Linked DNA regions of Homo sapiens: region 2 is linked to region 1. A link means that fine-mapping ties the variant in region 1 to the expression of a gene that starts in the linked region. Tissue or cell type: whole blood. Region 1 holds a variant in brackets; the other region holds the start of a gene. All regions are shown on one strand. Distances are between the middles of the regions.

Region 1 (10,614 bases):
AACATTTAAATTATTCAGTTCCACAGCTTATAATACAGCAGTTACGTTCCTTGTTGATAGCTTCATAAAAACTACTAAGTAGTTTCAAATGCATAGTAAAAGCACAATTTTATCTTAATTTTCTAAAATGTCCAGTCATGTAAAATAAAGAGATCAAAAACAGAGGAAAAAAATTTCATTACAATTTTTTCCTTCAAAAAAATCAAAACTTAATTCCAATAAATGAGAAGGAATGTTAGCTGACAAAAATGAAAAAAAAAAAAAATGGCTGGGAGCAGTGGCTCATGCCTGTAATCCCAGCACTTTGGGAGTCCGAGTGGGAAGATTGCTTGAGATCAGGAGTTTGAGACCAGCCTGGCCAACATGGCAAAACCCCATCTCTACTGAAAATATAAATAGTTCCAGCTACTTGGGAGGCTGAGGCAGGAGAATCACTTGAACCCAGAAGGCGGAGGCTGCAGTAAGCCAAGATGGTGCCACTGCACTCTAGCCTAGGTGATATAGGGAGAAAAAAAGAAAAGAAAAGAAAAGAAAAAGGGACATAATATTAACTTTGGGGCTGGTGTTTAGTTTGTGGGGATAGTTTCTGTCTCCTGAACCCTGGAGGGAAATGCAACAAATCTAAAAAGTAGTAGAATAACCCCAAAGGTGTGTTCATGAATGTTTAACCATCAGCTCCCAGGAAAAAAGACCCTGATTTTCATAGTGGGGCCTAGATTTTCATGGCAGGATGGAATGAATGAATACTCCCACTATGGCCAGCGTAGAGCTACCAAAATGGGGCTAGGAAGAGGTGCTTACACTCAGCTCACTGGGCTACACCATTCCAGCAAACACTGCCCAGGCCACAGGGTACAGGCCCTGCCTGATCCAAACCCAAACTTCTTTTGAGCTCCTCCATGGTATTCAGTGGCCTTTTTTGAATTCCTTAAACTCTTCCAGCTGTTTCTTTTCTCAGGCTCTTCACCACATTCTGCCTTCTCTACTTAGAATACTGCCTACCTAGAATACTAACCTCCCCTAAGTCCTCCTCATCCTCTAGATCTCAGGTTTCTGATATACACACACACAAAGCGAGAAAGCAGATCGCAATATAAGATGTTAGGGGTTTTTGGGGGTGTTTTGTTTTTGAGACAGGGTCTCACTCTGTTGCCCAGGCTGCAGTGCAGTGGTACAATTATGGCGCACTGCAACCTTAACCTCTGGGTCTCAAGCAATCCTCCCACTTCAGCCTTTCAAGTAGCTGGGATCACAGGTGCATGCCACCATGCCCAGCTAAGTTTTTGTTTGTTTTTGTAGAAACACGGCCTCATTATGATACCCAGGCTGGTCTCGAATTCCTAGACTCAAGTGATCCTCCCACCTCAGCCTCCCAAAGTGTTGAGCTAACAGGTGTGAGCCACCAAGCCCCATCTAAAATGTATTTCTTAACCAGATGCAGTGGCACACTTGTAGTCCCAGCTACTTGGGAGGCTGAGGCAGGAGAATTCCTTGAGCCCAGGAGTTCCAGCCTGCACAACATAGCAAGACCTCATCTCTATAAAAATAATTAAATAAAATAAAAGCATTTATTATAGTTCATGGCCAAAAACAAGCTTTTAAAGACCACTGCCCTAGACACTGCCAAGATATGCATTCTCCTCCAGACTTTGATTTTATGGATTTCAGATTGGCAATCCCCATCCACCTCTGTCATTACCACATTGTCTCACATGTGCTAATTTATTCTAGACCTGGAAGCCAGTGAACCTGCTTTCCTGATGACTACATACCTCTGCTCTAAACCAGGAAATGATGACTTCATAGTTTCACTCACAGAGGGTTGTTTTTCCCCAGTTCTTACATGTTATACGCAATACCTTCAAGCCTCATACCAGCAACACAAATTATATTTCATTTATTTCCAGTGTTGCTATTGTAACGTGATCTGGAGTAATCATTCAGTAATCATTCAGACTTCGAATACTTTAACATCCCTCTGAAAAAAGAATGTACTTAGGACATGAATCCATTGGTCAGAAAAAAAAAAAAAAGAAAAAAATGAAAGAAATTTTTAAAAAGAATGTACCTCATATCTCAACCAAGTCATTGAAATACAATTGAAATTCCATTTTAAAGCGTCATTAAAGTCATTCTAATCACCTTACAAACATTGTCTTTAAATAACAGGGTTTATTTATATCGTTGGTATTTATTTCCATTGACATCATTTTCAAGAAAGCACTATGAAATTCTCCAAGGCCATGTACTTTTCAGATACCTATTTCTCTTTCTCTCTTGCTCTTATCTCTCCTCTCTCCCTCTCTCTTTCTATTTTTGAAAAAGCTTTTTAAAATTTCTTTAATTAACAAATTGGTACCTGAATCAGAATAATGGATCTGTTTTTGTTTCCTCTTTAACTTTGTTACTTTATGTCATGTAATTATTGAATACTGAATATCTTTTCTATATCTAATCATGCTTTATCTTCTCTTTAACAACTATAGAACAATTAGAGGATCTAAAATTAAATTTTTATCCCCTAAACTTTCAAAGTTCACAGCATATGTAATTTTCTGAATGCCATCTGTTAGGGCTTTATTAAGCAAGTTGTTAATGTTATGTAGCAAACATGTAGCAGAAATGTCACTAACATTTTAAATTGTGCTCTAAAATATGTGTAGGCATTATAAACTAGTGATGTCTTCTTTCTCATTACTGTCCTCACTTATTTCTAATACTGCAATCAGAGTCGTAATGTGTCTCTTTTACTTTCAGTTCCTGCCATTTATTTCTGGTATGATCATCTTGATTTACTATTATTAGTATGATTGGGTCATTATCATTACCTGTTACTAGCACAGTTCCAGGAATGTACTATACACTCTATAAAATGTTAATTTCTTTCTTTTGGCATTTTCTAAAAATATATATATAGTCTATTTACATAGATATTCAAATGCTTATACATAAAGATATATTCAAAAGGCTCAGCCGGGCGCAGTGGCTCACACCTGTAATCCCAGCACTTTGGGAGGCCAAGGCGGGCGGATCACCTGAGGTCAGGAGTTCAAGACCAACCTGGCCAACACAGTGAAACCCCATCTCTACTAAAAATACAAAAATTACCTGGGCTTGGTGGCATGCGCCTATGGTCCCAGCTACTCAGGAGGCTGAGGCAGGAGAATTGCTTGAACCCGGGATGCAGAGGTTGCAGTGAGCCAAAATCACACCACTGCACTCCAGCCTCGGAGACGGAGCGAGACTCCATCACAAAAAAAAAAAAAAAAAGGTTGGGGGGGTGACGCTTTCATTAATACCAGAAGCTAGAGCAAAGAACAAAGCTATGATGCTAGGGACCTCAAATAAATAATGAAAACATTTATCTAATTCCTATTACCTTTGGTGACTAAAAGAAAGATAAAATGCTGTGTCCATTAGATCAAACTCTAGGAGAGCAAAGAACACGTCTGTGATATTGACTGCTGGTATCCTCAGAGCTTAGAACAACAAATATACACTACAAGATGGCCGAATCAATGAATCAGTGGGCAAGCAGGAACTGCAGCCAGGTCTTTACTTGTGCGGCACTGATGTCCACAGCTACGAATTTTTGTTAATCATAGAATTAATTGGTGTGTCCATCCAGTTAACCAAAATTAATTATATGGCCAAATACACCAGAAAATGTTTGTCCTTGTAGGATCTTTTCTTTATTTTTATGTTTTTAAATAGAGACAGGGTCTTGCTCCGTCACCCAGGCTGGAGTGCAGTAGTGCAGTCATGGCTCACTGCAGCCTTGAACTCCTGGGCTCAAGCAACCCTCCTGCCTTAAGCCTCCCAAGTAGCTAGGACTACAGGCCCATGCCACCACTCCCAGCTGATTTTTTTATTTTTTGTACAGACGGGTCTCACTATGTTGCCCAGGCTGGTCTCAAATTCCTGCCTTCATGGGATCCTCCTGCCTTGGCCTCCCAAAGGGCTGGGATTATAGGCATGAGCCACTCCACCCAGTCCATGTGGAATCTTTTATCTTTTTTACTTTTTTCATCTTCATTTTTTTTTAATAGAAACAGAGTCTCCCTATGTTGCCCAGGCTGGTCTTGAACTCCTGGGCTCAAGGGATCCTCCTGCCTTGGCCTCCTAAAGTGCCGGGATTACAGAAGTGAGCCACCACACCTGGCTCCATGTGGGGTCTTTAGTCACAGATTCTTTATGGGCCTGTTCTTTCAAAAAAAGTGTAATAAAATTTAGCATGTGAGTGTTCTAGCAAACAGTCATACAGATAGGTGAATTGAGCTTAAAATGTTTTTTGATTTTTTTTTTTTTTTTGAGATGGAGTCTCACTCTGTTACCAGGCTGGAGTGCAGTGTCGTGATCTCAGCTCACTGCAACCTCCGACTCCGTGGTTCAAGTAATCCTCCTGCCTCAGCCTCCCGAGTAGCTGGGACTACAGGCACGTGCCACCACGCCCAGCTAATTTTTGTATTTTTAGTAGAGA[C/T]GGAGTTTCACCATGTTGCCCAGGCTGGTCTCGAACTCCTGACCTCGTAATCAACCTGCCTCAGCCTCCCAAAGTGCTGGGATGACAGGTGTGAGCCACAGCACCCAGCCAAAAAAATTGATTCTTATTTGCTTTGGTTTCATACGATCAGGGGTAAATGGCCTTAGGCAGAAATATACAGAATTATAGAATGTTGGTATTATTTTTTTGTCATCTAAATAATCTTAAATTTGTTGGGGTTGTTGTTGTTGTTGTTGTTTGTTTGTTTGTTTGTTTTTTGAGATGGAGTCTCGCTCTGTCACCCAGGCTGGAGTGCAGTGGCACGATCTTGGCTCACTGCAACCTCTGCCTCCCAGGTTCAAGCGATTCTCCTGCCTCAGCCTCCCGAGTAGCTGGGATTACAGGTGCATGCCACCAGGCCTGGCCAATTTTTGTATTTTTAGTAGAGATGGGGTTTCACCATGTTGGCCAGTCTCATGTCAAGCTCCTGACCTCAAGTGATCTGCCCACCTCGGCCTCCCAAAGTGCTGAGATTACAGGCATCAGCCATCATGCCCGGCCCTAGATTTGTTTTTTAAATACCTCAATTGTATAATGTGTTCAATATGTAGATATATAATTTCTTAAATTAATATTCTGAGGCTTAGTGTTCAGCCTGTCTCCCTATACCTCCACATCACTCTATAGTCCATTTCTCTCTTTATTTTCTTTAGAGCAGTATCTGTAATTTTCTTCTTTCTTTTCTATTTGCTTATTGCCTATCCTATCTAAATAGAATATAATACATTCCATGAAAGCCAACAGTCTTATCTGTGTCGCTGCTGTATCCCCAGCACACAGAACAATTGACTCCCCTGTCAAATTTTGTTCAATGGTAGGAAGAAAGAAAGAAAAGAAGGGAAGTGACATTTACTTTTAATTTTTTTGTATTGAATTTTTGTTGGAAACAAATTTTAAAAACTAATTAGATCATCCTTTCTCCTCCCACATTACCCAGAAAAGCAAGGAAGGTCATTGTCTATCTCGTTATTGCTAGGCACTGAAACAGCTCAGTATCTTAACATATTTTTTCTCTGATCTCAGAAAACAACAAGTTTCTTCCTTCCAAGATTAGCCCCTTTGTGCTTGTTGCACTCTTTATATTGAGATGCACGAGCAGCAATGAGATGATCCCTGAAGAATGTGGACTGAGAAATGCAGGAGACCCAAGACAAAATCCCAACAGATACCAACAGCTGAGGAAAGGACAAAAGAGAAAACACAGAAAGGAGACCCTCCTTCACTCTCATGTACCCATTACAACCTGGTTCCTTCCTCAATTACTGAAGTAAAACTATCTCCCAAAGCGCGCTGGCTCCACCTGCTACGACTGAGTCCCTAAGCCTTTGTCTCTCTCTTCTTCCAGTGTAAATGCTCTTTTCCCTCAGCCCTTCCCGTAAAGTCATTCTTCAGTGTTCAGCTGAGTCCCATGTTTTGTCTTGTTTTTCTCTACTCTTCTTTGAGATAGAAAGTATTAGAGGGAAAGCCAGGCACGGTGGCTCATGCCTGTAATCCCAGTGCTTTGGGAGGCCTAGGTCGGAGGATCTCTTGAGGCCAGGAGTTTGAGGCCAGCCTGGGCAATGTAGCAAGACCCCATCTCTACAAAAAATTTTAAAAATTAGCCAGATTTGGTGGTGTGTGCATGTAGTCTCAGATACTTGGGAGGCTGAGGGGAGAGGATTGCTTGAGCCAGGTGGTAGAGGATGCAGTGAGCTATGATCCTATGACTGCACTCCAGCCTGGGCAACAGAGGGAAACCTTGTCTCTAAAAAGGAAAAGAAAAGAGAAAAGAAGAGGAGAAGGGAAGGGAAGGGGAAGGAGAAGTGGGAAAGAGAAAAGAAAGAAAGGAAAAGGTGCAGCAAGCCGGTATGGCACGTGTATACGTATGCAACAAACCTGCACGTTCTGCACATGGATCCCAGAACTTCAGTAAAGTTTTTATTTTACTTAAAGTAAAATTAAAAAAAAAAAAATAGAAAGAAAGGAAAAAAATATTAGAGGGAAATAAATGTGTCCTCTCTCCCCTGCCCCCAAACTCTACCTGTTTTCCATAAGGGTGGATTTTTCCACATATTCCTGCCTCTTTCTGTCTCCTGACTGTCTGATTGCTACATTTCCTTTGAGGGACTGACTTGTGTAGTTCTTCTTTTTCCTGTCCGTTTTTCTCTACAAAAGAACCAGCCACCAGCCTAGTCTATTCCTGGGGCAGTTCTTTGTTCCCCATGTTGCAGGTCTTCATCGTCCCATGTGACTGGTGGGTAAGTCGAGGACACAGTGGGGGTGGGAGTGGGGATGCTTCAAGCCCATTTGGCCTTCACAATAAACTATGACTTCCAACATTTTAAATTTAAAAGTAATATTTTAAATCTCTCTTTTGTCTTCCACTGCCTGAAAAGAGAGGTGCTATTTATTGAACTCTTGACATCTCTACAACAGTAAACATAATTTGAAAAAAATGAAATCTCTATACTGGGTCTCTGTCCCCCAGGCTGGAGTACAGTGGTGTGATCATGGCTCACTGTGGCCTCCAGCTCCTCAGCTCAAGCCATTCTCCTGCTTCAGCCTCCCAAGTAGCTGGGACTACAGGCATAAGCCACCATGCCTGGCTAATTTGTTTTTTTTTTGTTTTTTTTTTTTGTTTTTTTTTGTTTGTTTTGTTTTTTTGCGGGGCTGGGGTCTCACTGTGTTGCCTAGGCTGGTCTTGAACTCCTGGGCTTAAGCAATCTTCCTACCTCAGCCTCCCAAAGTGCTGGGATTATAAACATGAGCCACCTCGCCTGTCCTCATATCTTGATTTATTGTAATATGTTCTTTTCACCCTTCCTTTTCTCAAGATACCTGTCTAGTCTCTGTTCAAACATACTGTTCCTCCCAAGAGTCAGTAAAGACTAATTTATGTAACCAAAAAGTCTCCATCAGTTTGGAAAAACAGGTATCAATAAATTCTAATTGTTGTACAACTGTATTTTTTAATTTTGTTTTTTCTTTTCCTTTTTTTTTTTTTTTTTTTTTTGAGACAGAGTCTCACTCTGTTTCCCAGGCTGTAGTGCACTGGCATGATCTCGGCTCACTGCAGCCTCAACTTCCTGGGTTCAAGTGATCCTCCTGCCTCAGCCTCCAAGGAGCTGAGACCACAAGCACGAACCACCACACCCAGCTATTTTTTTGGTATCTTTTAGTAGAGACAGCATCTCACCATGTTGCCCAAGCTTAACTGTATTTTTTTTTTAAGATTTAAGTGATGAAAGTATTTTTCTGAATGAATGAGAGATTAATCCATCAATTACTGTCATGCGTTTTCTTTTCTTTTTTCTTTTGAGACGCAGTTTTGCTCTTGTTGCCCAGGTTGGAGTGCAATGGCACAATCTTGGCTCACCACAACCTCCGCCTCCCGGGTTCAAGTGATTTTCCTGCCTCAGCCTCTGGAGTAGCTGGGATTACAGCTGCCCGCCACCACACCCAGCTAATTTTTTTGTATTTTTAGTAGAGATGGGGTTTCACCATATTGGCCAGGCTGGTCTTGAACTCCTGACCTCAGGTGATTCACCCACCTCGGCCTCCCAAAGTGCTGGGATTACAGGCATGAGCCACCGTGCCCGGCTGTCATGCATTTTCATGAATGATTTGCAAATCTTCCTCTGTAGCCTTTACAATCCCTGAAGTCTCTCCTACCTCAGTTCCTGTGTTACTCATTGTTTACAGAATATTTCCTCTTAACTTTTTTCATTGCTCTACTGCCCTACATATTTTTTAATGTTTTTTTAAACATTTTTTATTGTTATTTTTATTGTTATTTTTATTTTTTTGAGACCAAGTCTCACTCTGTCACCCAGGCTGGAGTGCGGTGGCACGATCTTGGCTCACTGCAACCTCTGCCTCCTGGCTTGAAGCTATTCTCCTGCCTCAGCCTCCCGAGTAGCTGGGATTACAGGCACCCACCACCACACCCAGCTGATTTTTGTATTTTTAGTAGAAACAGGGTTTCACCATGTTGGCCAGGCTTGTCTTGAACTCCCGACCTCAGGTGATCTGCCCACTTCGGCCTCCCAAAGTGCTGAGATTACAGGTGTGAGCCAGCTAACTTTTTTTTTAAAAGAGTGATGGGAGTCTCACTATTCTTCCCAGGGTGGACTTGAACTCCTGGGATCAAGAGATCCTCCTGCCTCAGCCTCCGAGTATCTGGGACTGTAGGTGGGGCCCCCTAAAAACTTTTTTTTATTTTGAGACAGGGTCTTACTCTGTTGCCGAGGCTGGAGTACAGTGGCGTGATCATGGCTCACTGCAGCCTCAACTTCCTGGGCTTAAGTGATCCTCTCGCCTCAGACTCCCAACAAGCTGGGACTATAGGCATGTGCCACCACATCTGGCTAATTTTTTTTTTTTTTAGTAAAAACAGGGTCTCACCATGTTGCCCAGCCTGGTCTAAGTCCTGGGCTCAAACAGTCCTCCCACCTCAGTCTCCCGAGTAGCTGGAACCACAAGTACATGCCACCATGCCAGCTAATTTTTTAAGTTTTTTGTAGAGACGAGGTCTTACTACGTTGTCCAGGCTGGTAATAAACTCCTCGGCTCAAGCGATCCTCCTACCTTGGCCTCCCAAAGTGTTGGGATTACCGGCATGAGCCACAGAGCCCAGCCTAGAAACTTCTAATTTTGACTTAATATCAGAGTTACAAAAAAGTTGCAAGAATCATGCAAATAATTACCATTTGCTCTTTACTGAGATTCTCCAAATATTTGCATTGTATCACTTTATCCTTTTCCTTGTCTCTTTTGTTTATTCCCCTGAGCCTTTTAAGAGTACTTTGCAGATACGATTTTGCTTTACTGATAATGTTTCATGAGCATTTCCTAAGAATAAGAACATTCTTTTACATAAGCATAGTACAATGATCAAAATCAGGAAATTAACATTGATACAATACTATTATCTAATCTAAAGATGTTATTGAGATTTCCCCAGTTGCCCTAATATGCCCTCTGTTGAGAAGTCAATCTCAGATTACTCATTGCATTCAGTGGTCATGCCTCTTATACCTTCTTTAATCTAGAATAGTTCTTCAATCTGTCTTTTATAACACTGATATTTTTGGAGTACATGTCAGTTATTTTGTGGACTATCCATCAGCTAAGTATTCCTTTGATCCTATATCCATTGGCATTAATGTGTCTCTAGAAGCTATGGTGATTAAAAGTAATCCCTTTTCTGTGTCTTCATATTTCCAGTTTTACATTCCAGCACCACCTCTTACTACATGTGTGACCACTTAACCTCTCTAAGCCATAGTTACTCATCTTTAAAATTCAAAGAATTAGGCTAGACTTTGTGGGTCACGACTGTAATTCCAACACCTTGCAGGGCTGAGACAGGAGGATCCCTTGAGCCCAGGATTTGAAGACCAGCCTGAGCAAACACAGTAAGACCCTGTCTCTATTAAAAAATTAAAATTAGCCAGGTGTGGTGGTGTACTCCTATAATCCCAGCTACACGGAAGGCTGAGGTCAGAGGATGGCTTGAGCCTAGGAGTTGGAGGCTGTAGTGAGCTGTGATTGGGTCACTGCACTCCAGGCAGGGTGCCAGAACCCATTCTGTCTTGGGGGGAGGGGAGGAAAATTGTAATAATTGTACCTGCCTAATAGGTTATAGAGAGCATTAAAGGCAGAGACATATGAAAGAAGTTATCCAGCCGGGCTTGGTGGCTCACACCTGTAACCCCAGTACTTTGGGAGGCCGAGCCGGGTGGATCACGAGGTCAGGAGATCAAGACCATCCTGGCTAAACCTGTCTCTACTAAAAAATACAAAAAATTAGCCGGGCATGTTGGCACACGCCTGTAATCCCAGCTACTTGGGAGGCTGAGGCAGGAGAGTCACTTGAGCTGGGAGGTGGAGGTTGCAGTGAGCCAAGAAGATCTCGCCATTGCACTCCAGCCTGGGCGACAGAGAAGACTCTGTCTCAAAATAAATAAATAAATAAAAATTAAGAAAAAACAAGGCCAGGCACGTGGTGGCTCACACCTGTAATCCCAGCACTGTGAGAGGCCTAGGCGGGCAGATCACCTGAGGGCGGGACTTCGAGACCAGCCTGACCAACA
Region 2 (9,343 bases), 250 kb before region 1:
AGTCTTCTGTTCACTCAATACACAACTATTATTAATATCAGAGAATTTTTGAAATCTACATTATGATATACACAACTCTGAATAGGAGAGAAGATAGCAGTGTTTCTTATAGGCCAGTGCTAACAAAAACAGCTTTCTATGATGAAGGAAGTATTCATTTTGCGATCTCTAATATGGTAGCCACTAGACACAAGTTTCTCTTGGGCACTTGAAAGACAGATAGTACCACCAAGAAACTGAATTTTTAATACATATTAAATTTAAATAGTCATATATAACTAAGTGGCTACATATTAGGGCAATACTAAATCTGTATTTCAAAAATCAAACCCAACTTTTATCTTCTCATTTCCTTTTGGTTTCATAAAGTATCATAAAGGTAAGAAGGGATGACAGAAGTGTAAAGACTGGATTTATGTATAATGTCCTATCACTTAAAACCTATTTCTATAACAAGGGCTACCATTTATATTTACCATACCTATGTGCCAGGCACTAGGATGAAAATTGTATTAATGCTACAGTTATCATCTTATTTGATCCTTATAACAACACTATGAAGTTATTATTGCTAAACATTATATATTTATATATAAGAAAATGAATGCTCAGAATTTAATTATTCCCTTAGCACTCCTTCTCACATCAGCTATTGTAATGACTCCTTTACTCACCTCTCTGCCTCTAATCTTTCCTGGATAAAATGCTTAATGTTACACACTGACATGAGAGTGGTCTTACAAACAAATACCATTTCCAATCATTCTCTCCTGCTCCACCAATCCACATTCATATACCATTACTTTTTCTTAGCCTGACATATAAGGAAGGGATCTCAGAATCCTTTCCTCTTCATAGCAGCCCTTCAGGGAGATCTTTATAAATCAATTGAAAAATTACTAACCTACAGAATAAGTTCTAGGTCTTTACTATCTGGACACTCCCCTCCCTCTTCTTTCCTCTGTCTGCAGTGCCTGCCACTTCATTTGTCAGCAGCTACTCTTTATTCACAAATCAGCCATGGACTCCGTTCATTTTTTCCTCAACCAAACAGTGCTACCAGGTACCAGGCCCTACTCAGGTTAATGGGAATATATCTATTTTAGAAAGTTAACTCCTTTAGGAATGGCATTTCAATAAGCCTATGACATCCACTCCTGTTTATAACACAACTATTCCAAATCCAGCTTACCCACCGACATTCCAATTTTTAAATTTGGTAACTATATGCCTAATATTCCAAAGTGGCTATTTTAATATTTTTACTTTTCAAAAACAAAACAAAAACATACCCCTTCTTCAGACAAACAAGCAAGACGATCTATGAGTTCGGGGTTAGCAGTTAGGCTCTTTACATATTCTTCACCTGAAAAAATAAGTTTATGTTGTTTTTGATAAGTGTTTTTTCCTTAGATATGAAAAAAATGGATAGTCTTGTTTGCGACAGTATACACGTCATTCTTTCATTCATTGAGACACACTGAGAGTCTCACTCTGTCTCTCAGGCTGGAGTGCAGCGGCGCAATTACACATCACTACAGCCTAGAATCCCTGGGCTCAAGCTACCTTCCTGCCTTAGCCTCCCGAGTAGCTGGGACTATAGTTACATACTACCATGCACGGCTTTTTTTTTTTTTCCTGTAGAGCTATAGTCTCCCTATGTTGCCCAGGCTGGTCCTGAACTCCTGGTCTCAAGCAAGCCTCTTGCCCTGACCTCCCAAAGTGCTGGGATTACAGCACCTGGCCTCAATTTATTTAAAAAACAAAACCCAAAAATCTGTTGATGTGATCATACCTAAGCAGAAGCAGGGGTTCCAGTATATTTATGAGATTTCATTGCTAAACCAGTTGCAAATAGTGAGGGGAAAATTAACAGCCACTGGGCACAACATATTTAGGTTAAAAACTATGTGAAATTTAAAAATACAAAAATATCACATGAAGTTATATAGGACTACGAAAATACTAAATAGTAAAGTGAACATCTGACTATAGGCCTAATGATTATTTTTACACGCATTTGCAAACATGCACTAAGTACTTCTACATTTAGACTTACAAGTGAAAGCTGGTATTCCTTCTTCTATGGCTTTCTCTTTGTTTCTCCTGTCATTTGTTATGAAGATAACTTGCAGCTGGTTGTCTGCTGACATTTTTTTCAAATGTTCATTGTACCATTTTGCTGCTACTCGAATCGCTCTATCATTCCTGTCATTAGCATTTTCTCCCTGTTCTTGTTCTACATAGGTTTCTCTAAATGGAAAGAAAAAACGAAATAAAAGGAAATCAGTAGAAACAAGGATATGTGAAAACTCTTAGCACATAAATGCTTAACCACTAAACTAGAAAAAGTCAATGGTATATCTTTTCTCTTGAATGTATTCAGATGTACACCTCAGAGAAGAAATCAAGATTCTTATAATTAAGTTTTTAAGAAACAATTTGCTTGGAAAAGAAGAAAATTATGTTATTAAGGGGACAAGAAAAAGGCTAATACAATTTTATTTCCTAAAAAGAAAAATTCAAGATCAGAATTTATACTTTAGGTTGAGACACTAAATAATAGTTTGTTGACAAATTATAATACAATTTCACAGGTATGATAATCAGATTTCATTCAAACTGTAGGTTAATAGCAATTCCTAAAAGCTACAAATAGTATAATTAGATCATTTATAATCAGAATTCTACAGTCATTAATAAATAATGCATATAAATTATCCATGGTAAACACTAATAGCTGAAGCTATGTAGAGACTGAAAAGTCAGGTATATTAATAGATATTACGTATTTCTTCTATCTAAACTCCCAAGTATGTCAACACATTCATCTATTTCTTTAAATCTGTTCATCAAAGCCAGGTTTAAGTACAACAGCAAAGTTCACTACAATAGCTTCCAGTACTTAATGGTAATAGATTCAATTTAATAATTTGATTTATATTAATAGTTTTAGAATTATTTTATTCCTCATCGTTGAATGCACTTGCTAATGCTTTTTTTTTTTTTTTGAAACAGAGTCTTGCTCTGTAGCTCAGGCTGGAGTGCAGTGGCATGATCTCAGCTTACTGCAACCTCTACCTCCGGGTTCAAGTGATCCTCCCAACTCAGCCTCGCAAGTAGCTGGGACTAGAGGCATGTACCACCATAACCAGCTAATTTTTGTATTTTTAAGAGACAGGGATTTTCCAGGTTGGCTAAGCTGGTCTGGAACTCCTGGCCTCAAGTGATCTGCCCACCTCAACCTCCCAAAGTGCCAGGATTACAGACATAAGCCACCACGCCCAGCTGCTAATGTTTTAAGCTCATCAGTGAAAGACACAGTCATAAATTTTTGAATTGGTTTTAAACTTGGGTCTTTCTGCACTGAAAAACAAGTGATGTTGCTATTTCTGGATTTCAAGGAGGTACTAACAATAAGAAGCCTACAAGGGCTTTACTGGTATTCTTTACAAGAACATTGAAGTTTGAGATATAAGAATCAAGAAAGTTGAGATATTAAGGTTTTTAAAAATGTGCATAATCTGATGGAATTTCATTACCAGAAGTCTACACTCTAATCCAATGGTTCTCAATTGAGTGAATTCACCCCTCAGGGCATTTTGTATCATTACAACTGAGTGGTGGTGGTGGTGGTGGTGGTGGGGGGGGTAAGGGGTGGTGATCCTGCCAAATAGGCTAGGAACACTGTTAAACATACTACAATGTATAAAACAGCCTTTCCACCACAAAAAAATTATTCAGTTCAAAATATCTATAATGCCAAGATTGAGAAGCCCTGATCTAATCCAATAAAAGTACCATACTCATCATAGATTATTTATGTAATATAACGTAATAGGCAATATCATATTTTTGAGACCACACACTGAGTTCAAAGGTCTTGAATCTAAAAGCACAACAAAGAATTATATTCCTGGCCAGGCACGGTAGCTCATGCCTGTAATCCCACCACTTTGAGAGGCTGAGGCAGGTGGATCACGAGGTCAGGAATTCGAGACCAGCCTGACCAACATGGTGAAACCCTGTCTCTACTAAAAATACAAAAATTAGCCTGGCATAGTGGTGCGTGACTGTAATCCCAGCTACTCAGGAGGCTGAGGCAGAAGAATCGCTTGAACTTGGGAGGTGGAGGTTGCAGTGAGCAGAGATCACACCACTGCACTCCAGCCTGGGTGACAGAGTGAGACTCCATCTCAAAAAAAAAAAAAAAAAAAAAAAAAGAATTCTATTCCTTAACCTAATCTTGCTCAATGTAATCAGCTGCAAAGTATTAAACTTTTAAAAAGACCATTAAGAATAAATCTACTTTCTATTTTTAAACAAAATAGAAACTTCACAAACTCATATATTTTATTACCCTCTGTTAGTTGTTCACATAATATGGTATTCCAGGAACTTAAGCAAATCTCATCTTCCAAGATTCTATGGTCCAACTCATGCTAAAACCAATTCAAAATGAAAACATTTTGGAAATTAAAGTACCTATTGTAGTCTAGGAGTCAGCAGACCTTGGTTTTAGGCTTGAGCCCATCAATGCCTGTGTGACCTTAGAGAGATCCACTTAGCATTATCTTCTGCACAGCCATGTAAGAATTAAATAAGGTATGAAATCTATCACTTATCTTCTGACAATGTCATAAATTACTCACAGGAACCCTCTCCCGAATTTTGCTAATCCTGTGGTTTTCTGATATTTAACGTAATATTCCTCCTACCTATGGTGCTCATTAGTGAAAGTATAGAAATGCTTCTCTTGGTTATTAGTCACATCTCGGATGCGTTTATATACGGGGGCACTGCGATTTCTCACTTCTTGAAGAACTGTTTGTAGCACAATTACATTCCTGATGGCAGGGTCCTCAAGAACATCAATCTTAAAGAAAGATAAAGTTAATTTTTCCTATATTCATTTGTAAATAGCTCTGTCAAACATAAAATCCTGTTTTATGTTGGGCATAAATACTTTATGTTTTAAAAACACTGAATAAGTTAAGCCAAGAAGCTATTTGGCTATAGAAAACGAGACAATAGTCACTAAACCCTTCAGATCTATTAAAAAAAGCACACTTAAACAGACCAATCACAAGACTTCGTAGAATTAAGGGTATTAATAAAGGAATACGTTGGCCCACATAGTTTTTTGTTCCTAGGCACTTACAAGCTGCCTGGGAGTCGCAGGCTGGAGGCCACAGAAGCCCAGGTCCCCGGCCTCCAGGCACTTACAATCTAAGGCAGAAGAGACACCAGGAGTTAGAAAAATAACGTGTCTGAACTACGACTCCAAGAACTAAATTTTTTAAAGCACAAGGAAAAGAACCTCGGCCTGGGGAACAGGAAGCTTCGGTCCCGAGGGGGTTTCCCTTTCGCTAGGTATGTGACACTGCCAAAGACCCGCCTCCCTGGGCCTCAGTTTCCCTGTCATACCCCCTTGTCCCCGTGGGGCCGCGCTGTCCGCGGTTCGCCCGCCCACGCACCTGGTGCAGTAACACATTAGTGTCGGGCAGCAAGTAGTGCGGTTGCGGGCAGACGCTGCTCGCCGGGTCCTGGGGCTGCGGCTCCAGGGCCGGCCCCTCGTGCGCCCCTCCACACGCTGCGCACCCGGGCGCACCGCAGCCGATGTCGTCTCGCAGGTAGTGCTCGCGCACGATCTTCATCACGCCGCCCGCCCGGGTCTTTTTTAAGAACGTCTTGGACTTGAGCATCTTGCCTCGCCGCGCAGAATCCTAACCCCAGCAGCGCTCTTCCAGCAAAAGGCGTCAATCTAGAATACGCCTAACCCCGGAGGTTCTTCCCTTTCCATTCCCGGATATTAGTAACACTTCTCGCGGGAAAATGCCGAGATAAACATTGGTTGGCTCTCTGACGGCCGCGGGGATTGGGCGAGAGTGGGGAGGGGCGGCAAAGCAAGGCGAGGAGCCATTTCCGCCCGTGGCCTAGGCGGGGCTTCCTTCTGGACGCCACCTCACAACGTGTGTTGCTTTCCGCTCCTCGGAACATCCGGGAGAGTTGACTTCCGGCGGCTTGTGGGAGTGCTGGTTCTGTCCTCCTTGCGGGTGCGGAGATGGTTGTCTTGGTTACGGGTCCTAACGGTCCCCTGCCTTGAAATCCCTTGTTGAGGGCCTGCAACCTTGTGCTTCCGACCGGAGACGCCTTTGGTCCCTCGGTGTCTGCACTGGCTGCTGGTCAAGGCTTCAGTGTGGAGTAATTGACACTTTCGAGGTAACTTGCGACTATCATCGCTTTCTTTCCCGCGTGGGGCAAGGAATCCCCCGAGCTGCCAAGTTTGGGGCTTAATTTTCACGCCGAGTGTATAGGCAGTCCCCGTCTCGGGCCCTTTGTAATCGAGGAGAGAATTTGTCTTTGAATTCACTTTTTCTTACCTATTTCCCTTCAAAAAGAAGGAGGGAGGCCGATCTTAGTATAGTTCTCGCTGTTTCCCCTCCACACACCTTTCCTTATCATTCAGTTTAGAAAAACTGAAATATTTAATAGCATAATTTGTTATATCATGAGGTATTAAAACAAGGTAGTTGCTAACATTCTTATGAGAGAGTTAGAAGTAAGTTCTATTTAGAATTTCTTGAATTTTTCTTATATCCTGTTGTTTTCATTCTGCTATCTATAAAAAATGTTTTTGTCCCCGTTTTCCCTATTTAAAACATCTTCAATGATGCCTCATTGCCTGTAGAATAAAATCCAACCCTATTTTGACATTTAAGGCCTTCCAGTCTTGATCGTTAAGGGCGTGTGTGTGTGTGTGTGTGTGTGTGTGTGTGTTTGTGTTTGTGTTGGGGGGGCGGTGAAAGGAGTAACTATTCCAAGACTTGGCTTTGTTTTTTTACTTCCACTTACGTATCATTAATAACTGCATGATTTCTCCTTTTTACCATGCCTGTCCAAATCTTTAAAGATTCTAAGTGCTACCTCTGTGTAACGTTTCCCTGACCAACTCAGACGTGATTTCTGTTATCTTTGAGCATGTGTTGGTTTTAGTGGTGCCATTCTTGATTATAATGGGCTTTTTTCTTCATCTTGTACATTTCTTTGTTTCCTCCAAGTAAGATTCCTCCCCGCAGGAACTGTTTTTTTAAGTTTCTCGAAGGCTGACTTCATATTAGGAATTAATGTGTTTGATTTGAGCATTAACTTAACTGCAATAATCTGTTCTAGATTTGGGATGCACTAAATTGCCTAATATTTATTTAAGGAATCCTTAGTCTCTCTTTAATACAGTCCATGATTTCTGTAGTTAATTTTATAGTACATTTGAATTAATGTTTTTTAACCTACAGAATATTAAAATCAAATTAGAGAAGAAAACTGATCCATAATAATAAAAATGTCTCGAAAAATTTCAAAGGAGTCAAAAAAAGTGAACATCTCTAGTTCTCTGGAATCTGAAGATATTAGTTTAGAAACAACAGTTCCTACGGATGATATTTCCTCATCAGAAGAGCGAGAGGGCAAAGTCAGAATCACCAGGCAGCTAATTGAACGAAAAGAACTACTTCATAATATTCAGTTACTAAAAATTGAGCTATCCCAGAAAACTATGATGATCGACAATTTGAAAGTGGATTATCTTACAAAGGTAAGATCAGGTTTAAATTTTGTGTTCTATATGCTTTATTGTCTTCAAACGGCAGGTAAATAAGAATTAAATACACACATTATCTGAACTTGAAATGATACATTTATATTTCTTGACAAGTACAGCCTTTAAATAATTTTGGTGTTCATAGAAGTAGAGAATAGAATGGTGGTTACCAAGGGCTGGCATGGTTAGGGGTGAAGGAGGGTTGGGGAGATGTTGGTCAAAGGATACATAATTACAGTTGAATAGGAGGAATACATTCAAGAGATCTATTGGACAGCATGGTGGCTATAGTTAATGACATTGTAATCTTGGAAAACATTGTGTTTTTGAAAAACACAGCAGATGTTAAGTGTTCTCATTACTAAAATAACTATGTGAGGTAAAACATTTTTTAATTAGCTAGAGTTAACCATTTCACAATGTACGTATACTTCAAAACATTATGTTGTACATGACATATACACACAGTTTTATCTGTCAGTTGGGATCACCTGAGGTCAGGAGTTTGAGACCAACCTGGCCAACATTGTGAAACCCCAGCTCTACTTAAAAAAAAAAAAAAAAAAAAATTAGCCAGCCATGATGGTGGGTGCCTGTAATCCCAGCTGCTCGGGAGGCTGAGGCAGGAGAATTGCTTGAACCCAGGAGGCAGAGTTTGCAGTGAGCCACAATCGTGCCACTGCACTCCAGCCTGGGCAACACAGCAAGACTCTCAAAAACTAGTAATAATAATAATAATAATAATTGGAGGCCAAGTGCGGTGGCTCACACCTGTAATTCCAGCACTTTGGATGCTGAGGCCAGTGGATTGCTCCAAGCTCAGGAGTTCGAGACTACCCTGAGCAACATGGTGAGACCACCCTTGCTACTAAAAAAATAAAATAGCCCCGCGTAGTGGTGCTGCGCCTGCAGGCCCAGCTACTTCCGAGGCTGAGGCGGGAGAATCACTTGAATCCGGGGGCAGACATTGCAGTGAGCTGAGATCGTACCACTGCACTCCAGCCTGGGTAACAGAGTGAGACCCTATCTCAAAAAAATAATAATAATAATTTAAGTATTGAAATATGGAGTGATTTAAACGTAGATATGGATAAATTACTTTTGTAGGCTCAATTTAAAAAATCTAACATATGAGGTATTTTGTTGTTTTTTGTTGTTGTTGTTGGAGACAGTCTTGCTCTGTCACCCAGGCTGGAGTTCAGTGGCACAATCTTGGCTCACTGCAACCTCCACCTCTTGGGTTCAAGCAATTCTCCTGCCTCAGTCTCCCACGTAGCTGGGATTACAAGTGCTCCCCACCATGCCCAGCTAGCTCTCTGGGATCACTTTTATAAGGGCACCAATCCCAACAGTGAGGGTTCTACCCTTATAACCTAATCACCCCAAAGGCCCCAACTTCCTGCTACTCACATTGGTGATTAGGTTTCAATATACAAATTTTGAGGGGAGAAAAAAAAATAAGCACACAAGACGTATTAGCCGTTGTTGTTTTCAACTAACATAGCATCCTTATCTGTTTCATCCCTTTCATTTTCTGTGCCTTTTATGGCCATCGGACTGAATTTGTTTGTTATTTGTCTGTGAATAGACTATGAGGTCCATGAGGACGGGGATGTTTTTGTATTCATGGTTGTATTTCCAGCACTTAGAACGGTGCCTGACACAAATTAAGTGCCCAGCTATTTCTTAAATGAATGACTGAACCCCATTTTGCTCTGATTAAACAAAGCCACTAGGTGGTTA

The links. PIP is the estimated chance that this variant, and not a neighbour inherited with it, causes the effect.
Region 2: PIBF1 starts here. The variant in region 1 is fine-mapped to the expression of PIBF1 in whole blood (TOPMed, PIP 0.97).

What each region holds. Positions count from the first base shown.
Region 1 is chr13:73,023,640-73,034,253 of GRCh38, forward strand. No RefSeq gene overlaps it. Among named protein-coding and RNA genes, the nearest start is that of KLF5, 30 kb to the right of the region's middle. The variant C/T (reference allele first, on the strand shown) is at 4,481.
Region 2 is chr13:72,776,128-72,785,470 of GRCh38, forward strand. It overlaps PIBF1 (progesterone immunomodulatory binding factor 1), which reads left to right and starts at 6,006. Exons shown (of 18, transcript NM_006346.4): 1 at 6,006-6,222; 2 at 7,296-7,594. The coding sequence starts at 7,343. It overlaps DIS3 (DIS3 exosome endoribonuclease and 3''-5'' exoribonuclease), which reads right to left and starts at 5,773. Exons shown (of 21, transcript NM_014953.5): 1 at 5,478-5,773; 2 at 4,719-4,876; 3 at 2,060-2,253; 4 at 1,293-1,366. The coding sequence starts at 5,705. RefSeq lists enhancers at 4,965-5,879, 5,797-5,906 and a silencer at 5,467-5,516.